Linked DNA regions of Homo sapiens. The protein of the gene in region 1 purifies or fractionates together with the protein of each later gene. This does not show direct contact. Each region holds a gene or a part of one and is shown in the gene's direction. Other genes may lie near its edges.

Region 1 (5,177 bases):
AGCAGTTTGTGTATATCCTTTCACAACTTTTTTCAGGATTTATGTAAGCATATACACAGACCCACAGTTTCTTGGGTTTTGTTTTTTAAAATTACAAAATAAAATCTTACTAGAAGTATTTTACAGCTTGCTTACTTAACCCAGTGTGTTGGGGATATTCTATATCACTCAATACAGATCTATTACGTTCTTCATTTGATCTTAGCCATCTATTGCATTCTTTCTTTTTTACTTATTTATTTATTTATTTATTTATTTATTTATTTATTTTTGAGACAGAGTCTCACTCTCTTGCCCAGAATGGAGTGCAGTGGCTCAATCTCGGCTCACCGCAACCTCTGCCTCCCAGCTTCAAGCGATTCTCCTGCCTCAGCCTCCCGAGTAGCTGGGATTACAGGCGTGTGCCATCATGCCTGGCTAATTTTTGTATTTTTAGTAGAAATGGGGTTTCACCATGTTGGCCAGGCGCGTCTCGAACTCCTGACCTCAGGTGATCCATCCACCTCAGCCTCCCAAAGTTCTGGGATTACAGGTGTGAGCCACTGCGCCCGGCCTGTAGTCTTTCAAATGGCTGCATAGTATTACATAGTGTGAATACAAACCATATTTAACTATTACCTTATAATGATAAAATGCGAGCCTTTATCTTCTTGCCAGTTATCTCACTTGAGTAAAAATGTGTGCTTTTTTTTATCTGTTCTTTGGCTTCTAGTTGAAAATGAACTACCTCCACCAGAAAATATAGAAGTCAGTGTCCAAAATCAGAACTATGTTCTTAAATGGGATTATACATATGCAAACATGACCTTTCAAGTTCAGTGGCTCCAGTAAGTTCCATTCCATAAATTTCCTTTTGCCCAGTTTGTTTTGATTATGCTTCTTTTCGCTCTGCATCAGTCACCAGGTCCTTGCACACAGAATGACCGACTGGGAGGTGGGTACGATATATTGGAAACGTGAGAAATCTCATTTCTAACCCCAGTTCTGCCAGTAACTAACTGGATGACATTGAGCTAATCGCTTAACCTCCATGGGCCTCAATTTCTTCACTTGTAAAATAGATGGATTCTAATATCTGGGGTTCTTACTGGCTTAAGAAAAAAAAGAAAGTGTAACTAGTTGCATGTGTTATTTCCCCAATCTGGAAGACTCGACAGTTGACCCTGATCTTTTTCTAAGAACTCACTTCTTCCATGAGTCCTTAAAATGATCTCAGTCCACTCACTTGTTCAATTCAAAAAATTAGCCTTCCTATTTTCTTTATTACTTTAGTGGTTTTGACAAAATTTTGTAGTAGATACTTCGGTGGGAAAGAAAGTTGGAAAGAACTATGTTCTATGTGGTTGAGCAGAGGCTAGCTAAACATGGATGAAGTCCAGGCGCTGCATAAATGAAAGAGAACTGGCCTGGTGCAGTGGCGCATGCCTATCGTCCCAGCTACTCAGTGGGCTGAGGCAGGAGGATTACTTGAGGCCAGGAATTGAGGCTGCAGTGTTGTATGATCACACCTGCTAGTAGCCGCTGCACTGCAGCCTGGGCAACATAGTGAGACCCCCATCTCTAAGCATTAAAATTTTTAAAAAGCTGATAAAAGAGAACTGCATGTAGTTTATATTGATTGGAAAATTGTAGGAGATGAATAGAGAAAAGAGAAGAGGAAAATTAAGTAGAAGGAAAAATGGGTTATGGGGAGAAAAGAGATGGAAAGAAAGATATACATTGGTGGCAGAGGAGTAGAGAGAGCAAAGGCAAGTATAGCTAAGACAGGAAAGGAAAAGTCAGAAGAAACTGGAAAGAAACAGAAAAAATGAGGGAGAAGGGAAGTGTAAGTACCGCTATGATCAATTTCTATCTTTTAGTGTTAATTTTGAACCAAGGGTGACTGGTAGAATGCAAATGCATTTATGTGCATATGTGCCCCACAATGCATATATAACCTCACAAACCAATCAGGAAACTGTTCAGTAGTCTTTTGTGTATACCTCACTTTCAGAAGTGAATAAATAATAGGGTCACCAAATAGATAATGAGAGGTATTTCTGATAGCTGATCTCTAAGCTTCTTTTGGGTACTTACCATATTGTACAAAGCACTGAAGAAATGGAAAGAGTCAGCAGAATCAAACGTGGTTCAAAAATTGAAAGCAGTTAGCCAACATTGCAAAGTGTTGTGTGGTTTAGGACTAAAGAGTGGTATACAAATTATAAGGGTTGCAGAAATTGAAAATGTAAAGGTGAATAGGGGCTAAAGAGACCAAAGAAGCCATAAGGAAAGAGATAAGGTATGAACAAGGCCTTGATTGTTAATTCAGATTTTTTTTAAGTAGACAACTATTAGATGTTAGTTTTCTGTGTCTGTAACTAATTACCACAGACTTAGCAACTTAAACAGCTGTTTATTGTCTCAAAGTTTCTGTGAGTCAGGAGTCCAAGCGTGGCTTAGCTGGCTCTTCTGCTAAGCAGTCAAGGAGTCAGTCATTCATACAAGACTTGGGGGCCGCTCCCAAGCTCACATGTTGTTGGCAGAATTTATTTCTAGAGCTCATGGTGGCTCACTTCTTAGAGGCCATCAGGAAGGGAGAGTCTGACCTCTAGATCCTTTTTTTTTTTTTTTTGAGACGGAGTCTCACTCTGTCACCCAGACTGGAGTGCAGTGACATGATCTCAGCTCACTGCAACCTCCGCGTCCTGGGTTCAAGTGATTCTTCTGCCTCAGCCTCCCAAGTAGCTGGGACTACAGGTGTGCACCACCACACCCAGCTAATTTTTGTAGTTTTAGTAGAAACGGGGTTTCACCGTATTGGCCAGGCTGGTCTCGAACTCCTGACTTCAGGTGATCCACCCGCCTCAGCCTCCCAAAGTTCTGGGATTATAGGCGTGAGGCACCGCGCTCAGCCATTTTTTTTGTATTTTTAGTAGAGACGGAGTTTCTCCATGTTTGCCAGGCTGTTCGCAAACTCCTGGCCCCAAGTGATCTGCCCACCTCAGCCTCCCAAAGTGCTGGGATTAGAGGCATGAGCCACCATGCCTGGCCTAGATCCTCTTTTAAGGGGTTCATCTGATTAGGTCAGGCCCACCCAGAATAGTCTCTCATTTGATTCAACTGATTTGGGACCTTAATTACATCTGTGAAATACCTTCTCTTCTGCCACTTAATGTAACCTAATTATGAGAGGAGGGCCTCCATCGTATTTACAGGTCCTGCCCATGCTCAAGAGGAGGGGATTATACAGGATGTGTACACCAGGGGGCAGGAATCTTGGGGGCCATCTCAGAATTTTGCCTTCTCCAGTGGGGAGGATGTCCTTCTAGAGTAGCAGAACATTTGGACACCAGGTGGCAATGGGAAGAAAGCTGAATAAGTAGAATGGGACAAGATTAGGGTCAACCTCAGGCTGTCCTGTAGGCTTTTGGGGATTTTGTGTTGGGGTGATAGTTAACCTGAGCTCTGGATTTGAGGAAGGTGCATGCGGCGACATGGTATGTGGGAGAGTGGACTAAGGAGACACTAAAGAGAGATAAGGAAACCAGTCAGGAGGCTATTAGAGTTCTGGGCTTGAACTGAGATGCTTTTAGCTGTTGGTTTCTGGGCAAGTTACTTAACCTCTTTAGTCTCGTACTTATACTTGCTCTTATAACCCCGCAGTGTGTCTCTATTTTAGCACTTAATCAGTGTCCATTGGTATGCTGGCGCATGTTTAGCAGCTGGCTTTCCAGAAAGAAAAAGTCCTATTTTGTAGTGTTTGCTGATTTTTATGATATAAATATTCCCACCATGGCCACTTTCAAGCCACCAGCCTGATGTCCCTGAATATGGAGTTGGGAACATATGCACAGTAGCACACCACTATCATATAGCTACAATAGATAAAGATAGCCCCAAGAGCTTAGAAAATAAAATGTAGTAAAATAATTAGGACAAGATGAATTTATTTATTACCTCTGTCTTTAAAACAATTTTTTATTTGCAAATTTATATAACTTAATTTTTAGTAATGGTTTTTCTTTAAAAACCAGTTTGTATTTTAGGAGGCCGAGGTAGGTGGATCACCTGAGGTCAGGAGTTCAAGACCAGCCTGGCCAACATGACGAAACCCCATCTCTACTAAAAATACAAAAATTAGGCAGGCCTGGTGGCGTGCACCTGTAATCCCAGCTACTCAGGGGGACAGAGGCAGGAGAATTGCTTGAACCCAGGAGGCAGAGGTTGCAGTGAGCCAAGATCCTACCACTCCACTCCAGCCTGGGTGACAGAGCGAGACTCGGTCTCAAAAAAAAAGCCAAAAAAAATAAACCAGCTTGCAGCATTCCTGGAAATTCTAACTAACAGATGTTCTTGCATATTGATATGAGCCACCTCCAGCAGAGCACAACATGACCACAGTCTGGAACAGTCTTTGGTTTTCTTTTATGTTAGATGCATATCTCTTCCATTGTTTGTGAGTTTCCTGAGTGTGGATACTATTTATTTCTGTAACCTTAGCCCCTAACATAGTGTCTGGCAATTGTAAATACTTAATAAATATCTAATGAATTTAAAAAATATTTGTCTTAAAAGCGCCTTTTTAAAAAGGAATCCTGGAAACCATTTGTATAAATGGAAACAAATACCTGACTGTGAAAATGTCAAAACTACCCAGTGTGTCTTTCCTCAAAACGTTTTCCAAAAAGGAATTTACCTTCTCCGCGTACAAGCATCTGATGGAAATAACACATCTTTTTGGTCTGAAGAGATAAAGTTTGATACTGAAATACAAGGTAAGGCAGTAGTTTTTACTGGAGATTGTAATTCTCTGGTGCAAGTTTTTAAAATTGTTTTTCTAATTGAACATTATTTCTTTACAAATTTTTTCTAGCTTTCCTACTTCCTCCAGTCTTTAACATTAGATCCCTTAGTGATTCATTCCATATCTATATCGGTGCTCCAAAACAGTCTGGAAACACGCCTGTGATCCAGGATTATCCACTGATTTATGAAATTATTTTTTGGGAAAACACTTCAAATGCTGAGGTAAAAAGACTGTATAGTATAATTTTGTAACTTAGAGTTATAATTATGATTTGGGTAAATAAAGCTTGAATGTAAAATTTGGGGGAAATTTTTAAACTTTATGTGGGCTGGATGCAGTGGCCTGTAATCCCAGCACTTCAGGAGGCCAAGGCGAGAGGATCACTTGA
Region 2 (4,338 bases), on another chromosome or scaffold:
GGATTTGAAGACGTACTGTGAAAAAAATGCTGTAAAATATCTCAATGTTTTATGTGGATTACATATTTAAGTGATATTATCTGGGGTACATTAAATTAAAATGCATTATTAACATTAATTTCACCCCTTCTCACCTTTTTTAATGTGCTGAGTGTGGATTTAAATTTCATATGTGGGCTGGGCACAGTGGCTGACACCTGTATTCCTAGCACCTTGGGAGTCCAAGGAGAGTGAATCACTTGAGCCCAGGAGTTTGAGACCAGCCTAGGCAACATGGTGAAACCTCGTCTCTACAAAAAAAAAGTACACTAAAAATTAACCCGGTGTGGTGGTGTGCACCTGTAGTCCCAGCTATTTGTGGGTCGGGGGGAGAGGGAGGGTCCGGGAGGTCGAGGGTGCAGTGAGCTGAGATCACACCACTGCACTCCAGCCTGGGCTATAGAGCAAGACCCTGTCTAAATAAATAAATAAATAAATAAATAAATAAATAAATAGGCCGGGTGCAGTGGCTCACGCCTGTAATCCCAGCACTTTGGGAGGCCTAGGCAGGCAGATCATGAGGTCAGGAGATCGAGACTAGCCTGGCCAATACGGTGAAACCCTGTCTCTACTAAAAAAATACAAAAATTAGCCAGGTGTGGTAGTGTGTGCCTGTAATCCCAGCTACTCAGGAGGCTGAGCCAGGAGAATCTCTTGAACCCAGGAGGCGGAGGTTGCAGTGAGCCGAGATCACGCCACTGCACTCCAGCCTGGGTGACAGAGTGAGACTACGTCTCAAAAATAAAAAATAAAATAAATAAATGTGTGGCTTATATTTCTTTTGGCAGTGCTGGTTTAAGGTGTGTAAATGCAGAATTGATGAACTGACCAAGCTAGGTAGAGGAGATTTCCCTCTTTTGGTTCCACACATCCCTGAAAGAGGAGTCCCCCAGCCACCACTGCCAGCTTCTGGGAATCCTGTGGCATTTCATTCACCGGCTTTTCTCTCCCCTCCCAGGACACCATATCTCAGAAGACGGTAGAGATTGCATCTCCTGCAAATATGGACAGGACTATAGCACTCACTGGAATGACCTCCTTTTCTGCTTGCGCTGCACCAGGTGTGATTCAGGTACAGAACATATGGACCCCATGCCTAAAGGTGGAATGCGGGGTGATGACATAAAAGTTGTAGCTAAAATGGGATCAGGAGACCTAGATTCTGGTCCACCTTGGTCTTCATCATACCATGTTCCATGATTTTGTCTTTGAGCTTTTTAATAAATAAAACAGGCCCGGCACAGTGGCTCATGCCTGTAATCTCAACACTTTGGGAGGCATCACTTGAGCCCAGGAGTTTGAAACCATCCTGGGCAACATGAGAAACCCCGTCTCTACAAAAATATAAACATTAGCCGGGCATGGTGGCGCGTGCCTGTATTTCCAGCTACTTAGGAAGCTGAGGCAGAAGGATCTCTTGAGCCCAGGAGGCCGAGGTTGCAGGGAGCCGAGATTGTGCCACTGCATTCCAGCCCAGGCAACAGAGCAAAACCCTGTCTCAATAATTAATTAAAATAATAATAATACAGAAATTATTTGTATAATGTATGCTACATGGTAAGGAAATCTTTTAAACTGTCAGCTGCAAGGGGGTGGGGCCATGAGCCAGGCCAAGTGGACAGGGCTGGATCTCAGCAGTGGCACAGGTCTGCTTTGGGGCCAGGCTCTCTCCCCTGGGCTCTGTGCTCCTGGCAGGTGCTCGGCCTCACTCACCCTTCAGGTTCTCAGGCCTCTCCCTCCTCCCCAGCAGGCTGGGCCTTGGGGAAGTCCCCCAAGGGCTCCTCTCCTTGCAGTCTCTCAGGTGATCCCTTGCACTTCCCTTGCTACTGGCCATGCAATCTAAACGATGCTTGTCCCCTAAACGGTGCTTTCCCCTAATCTAATGTAATAAATAATGAACTGTGGTCCTTTTGTATGACTCAACGAGTGTTAGTGACAGCTGAAGGGTGGGTATCCTGAATGAGCCATGAGTGTGCTGGTGCAGAAACTGGCCCTCAGAACTCCTTGGCAAACTGAGTTGAGCTGAGTAGCAGGGTCTTGGGGTGGGGAGGAAGGGTCAAGGGACACATCAGGAAAACACATTCCCAAAACCTTATGCTCTGTCGTCAGGTGAAGTGGAGCTAAGTCCCTGCACCACGACCAGAAACACAGTGTGTCAGTGCGAAGAAGGCACCTTCCGGGAAGAAGATTCTCCTGAGATGTGCCGGAAGTGCCGCACAGGGTGAGACAGGAGCCGGGGGCTCCCAGTAGCTCCATGGAACCCCAAAAGACCCAAGTCTCCTTGTACCCCTGTCTCTCCCCTGACAGCACCCGCAAGGGGCATCCTTGAGGCTGTGGCTGCCCCTCCTGGTCCCTCTGCGTGTCACCACCCCTGCCCCCTGCAGCAGCCTCTTTCCACCCCTCCCCAGCACGAGTCCCCTTGACCAGGCTGACTTGTTCACTGACCACAGAAGGCCATGACTTGGGGCCCATGATAATTTTAGGGGCCCATGAAATGATTTAATTTCTCTTGAAATAAGAAGAATGAGTAGAATGCAGCCAGGCATATATTCATCTTTATACCAATTCAGCAATAAAATGTATTTTTTAATATTTTTATGCATGCAGGGGCCCATAAAGACAAAAGTGCCCATGGCCCACAAAAGGCATAATAAGGCCATGGGTGGAGCTCCTTCAAGTTCCCATGAGGACCTGAGCCCACCCAGCCGGCCTCACCCCTGGCCCCTGATCCCTCAGTAAGACCTGTCTTTTCCCTATTTGGGTTTTAGGGGCCAAGAGTAATTTGCTCTTCTCTGGCCCCCCTAGTATTTGCTGTGATTGGGGGAAATGGGCAGACAGCTGGGGACAAGAGCTCACTTTTGTGGTTGACTGGAAGACCGGACTCATCTTGTGGCCACACGGGCTTGTGACCTTCCCCTGGAGTGTGATTGCTCCTAACGCAGGCCTCCCCTGCAGCCCAGGGAAGCTCAGTGTGTGCCCAGCACAGAAGGCTCCTGGAACTGCAGCTCTGACCCCAGAGCAGGGAGGCCGAGGGGCTGAAGTGCGCATGCTCAGACCCTTCCCCAGCCTCAAGAAGGGAGCACAGGGGGACCCACTGCTGACACGAGGAGACTGTCCTTCCCCTGACACCTTCTCAGGGACACTGGGGAGGGAGGGTGGCTCCTCTTTCATCCCACCTGGCCAGCTTTCCATCAAGAGTCCCCCCTCTCCCTCTGTGTGTGTACCCAGGTGTCCCAGAGGGATGGTCAAGGTCGGTGATTGTACACCCTGGAGTGACATCGAATGTGTCCACAAAGAATCAGGTACAAAGCACAGTGGGGAAGTCCCAGCTGTGGAGGAGACGGTGACCTCCAGCCCAGGGACTCCTGCCTCTCCCTGTTCTCTCTCAGGCATCATCATAGGAGTCACAGTTGCAGCCGTAGTCTTGATTGTGGCTGTGTTTGTTTGCAAGTCTTTACTGTGGAAGAAAGTCCTTCCTTACCTGAAAGGCATCTGCTCAGGTAGGTGCTGGCTGAGGGCGGGGGCACAGGGCACTCTCTGCCCTGCCCCCTCCCACCCTATTCCCACAGACAGAAACGCCTGCCCCTGCCCCAAGTCTAAGTGCCTCCAGCCTGGCTCTATCCTCCTCCTCGTGGTCACCCCCATCCCCACATCCCGTGCACCCCCCAGGACCCTGGTCTCTTCAGTCCCTCTCCCAGGTCTGGGGGTCCCCATATCTCCCAGCCAAGTCCAGGAGGGCAGGGCCAGTTCCTCCCATCTTCAGGCCCAGCCAGGCAGGGGGCAGTCGGCTCCTCAACTGGGTGACAAGGGTGAGGATGAGAAGTGGTCGTGGGATTTTTTCAGCCTTGGTCAGAGCAGAACCAGAGATTTTCCAAGTGTTTGTTTTTACTCTAGTTCCCCTTCTCATCCCCCTTCCTCAGGGTGTCTCTGAGTTGTAAGGCCCCATTCTGTCCCCAGCCCCAGGGCTCCTTGTCCAGTGTCCCAGCCCCCAGCCCAGCCCTGCGCCCCACTGTCCTCTGGGAGGGGGGTGCTTCATGGGCCCCTCCCTTCCTGCTAAGGAGACTGCTTCTTTTTTAGGTGGTGGTGGGGACCCTGAGCGTGTGGACAGAGTGAGTTGATTTCTCCAGGAGCTGGGGGCTCAGGGGTTCAGGAACTGCTTCCTGGGACAGCAGAACCTGGGTGGGTGGGTCCCCATTGTCCTCATGGCTGCCCTGACTCTCTGAAGTGGCCTGGGTGCTCTGGGCTGACTGTGGGGGACACATGGCCATTTTGAGCACCACATAGGCTGGTGAGCCCTGC

What was found. Proteins that work in one complex are often made in the same cells at the same time.
Region 2: the proteins of IFNAR1 (region 1) and TNFRSF10B purify together in Homo sapiens (affinity purification with mass spectrometry; one large-scale study listed by BioGRID and IntAct). This does not show direct contact.

The regions. Positions count from the first base shown.
Region 1 is NC_000021.9:33,344,534-33,349,710, forward strand, and holds part of IFNAR1 (interferon alpha/beta receptor 1 isoform 2 precursor), read left to right. Parts: intron 1-712; coding exon 713-827; intron 828-4,557; coding exon 4,558-4,757; intron 4,758-4,855; coding exon 4,856-5,010; intron 5,011-5,177. UniProt on the Homo sapiens protein: Together with IFNAR2, forms the heterodimeric receptor for type I interferons (including interferons alpha, beta, epsilon, omega and kappa).
Region 2 is NC_000008.11:23,027,532-23,031,869, reverse strand, and holds part of TNFRSF10B (tumor necrosis factor receptor superfamily member 10B isoform 1 precursor), read left to right. Parts: intron 1-997; coding exon 998-1,111; intron 1,112-2,148; coding exon 2,149-2,260; intron 2,261-3,267; coding exon 3,268-3,539; intron 3,540-4,116; coding exon 4,117-4,148; intron 4,149-4,338. UniProt on the Homo sapiens protein: Receptor for the cytotoxic ligand TNFSF10/TRAIL. The adapter molecule FADD recruits caspase-8 to the activated receptor.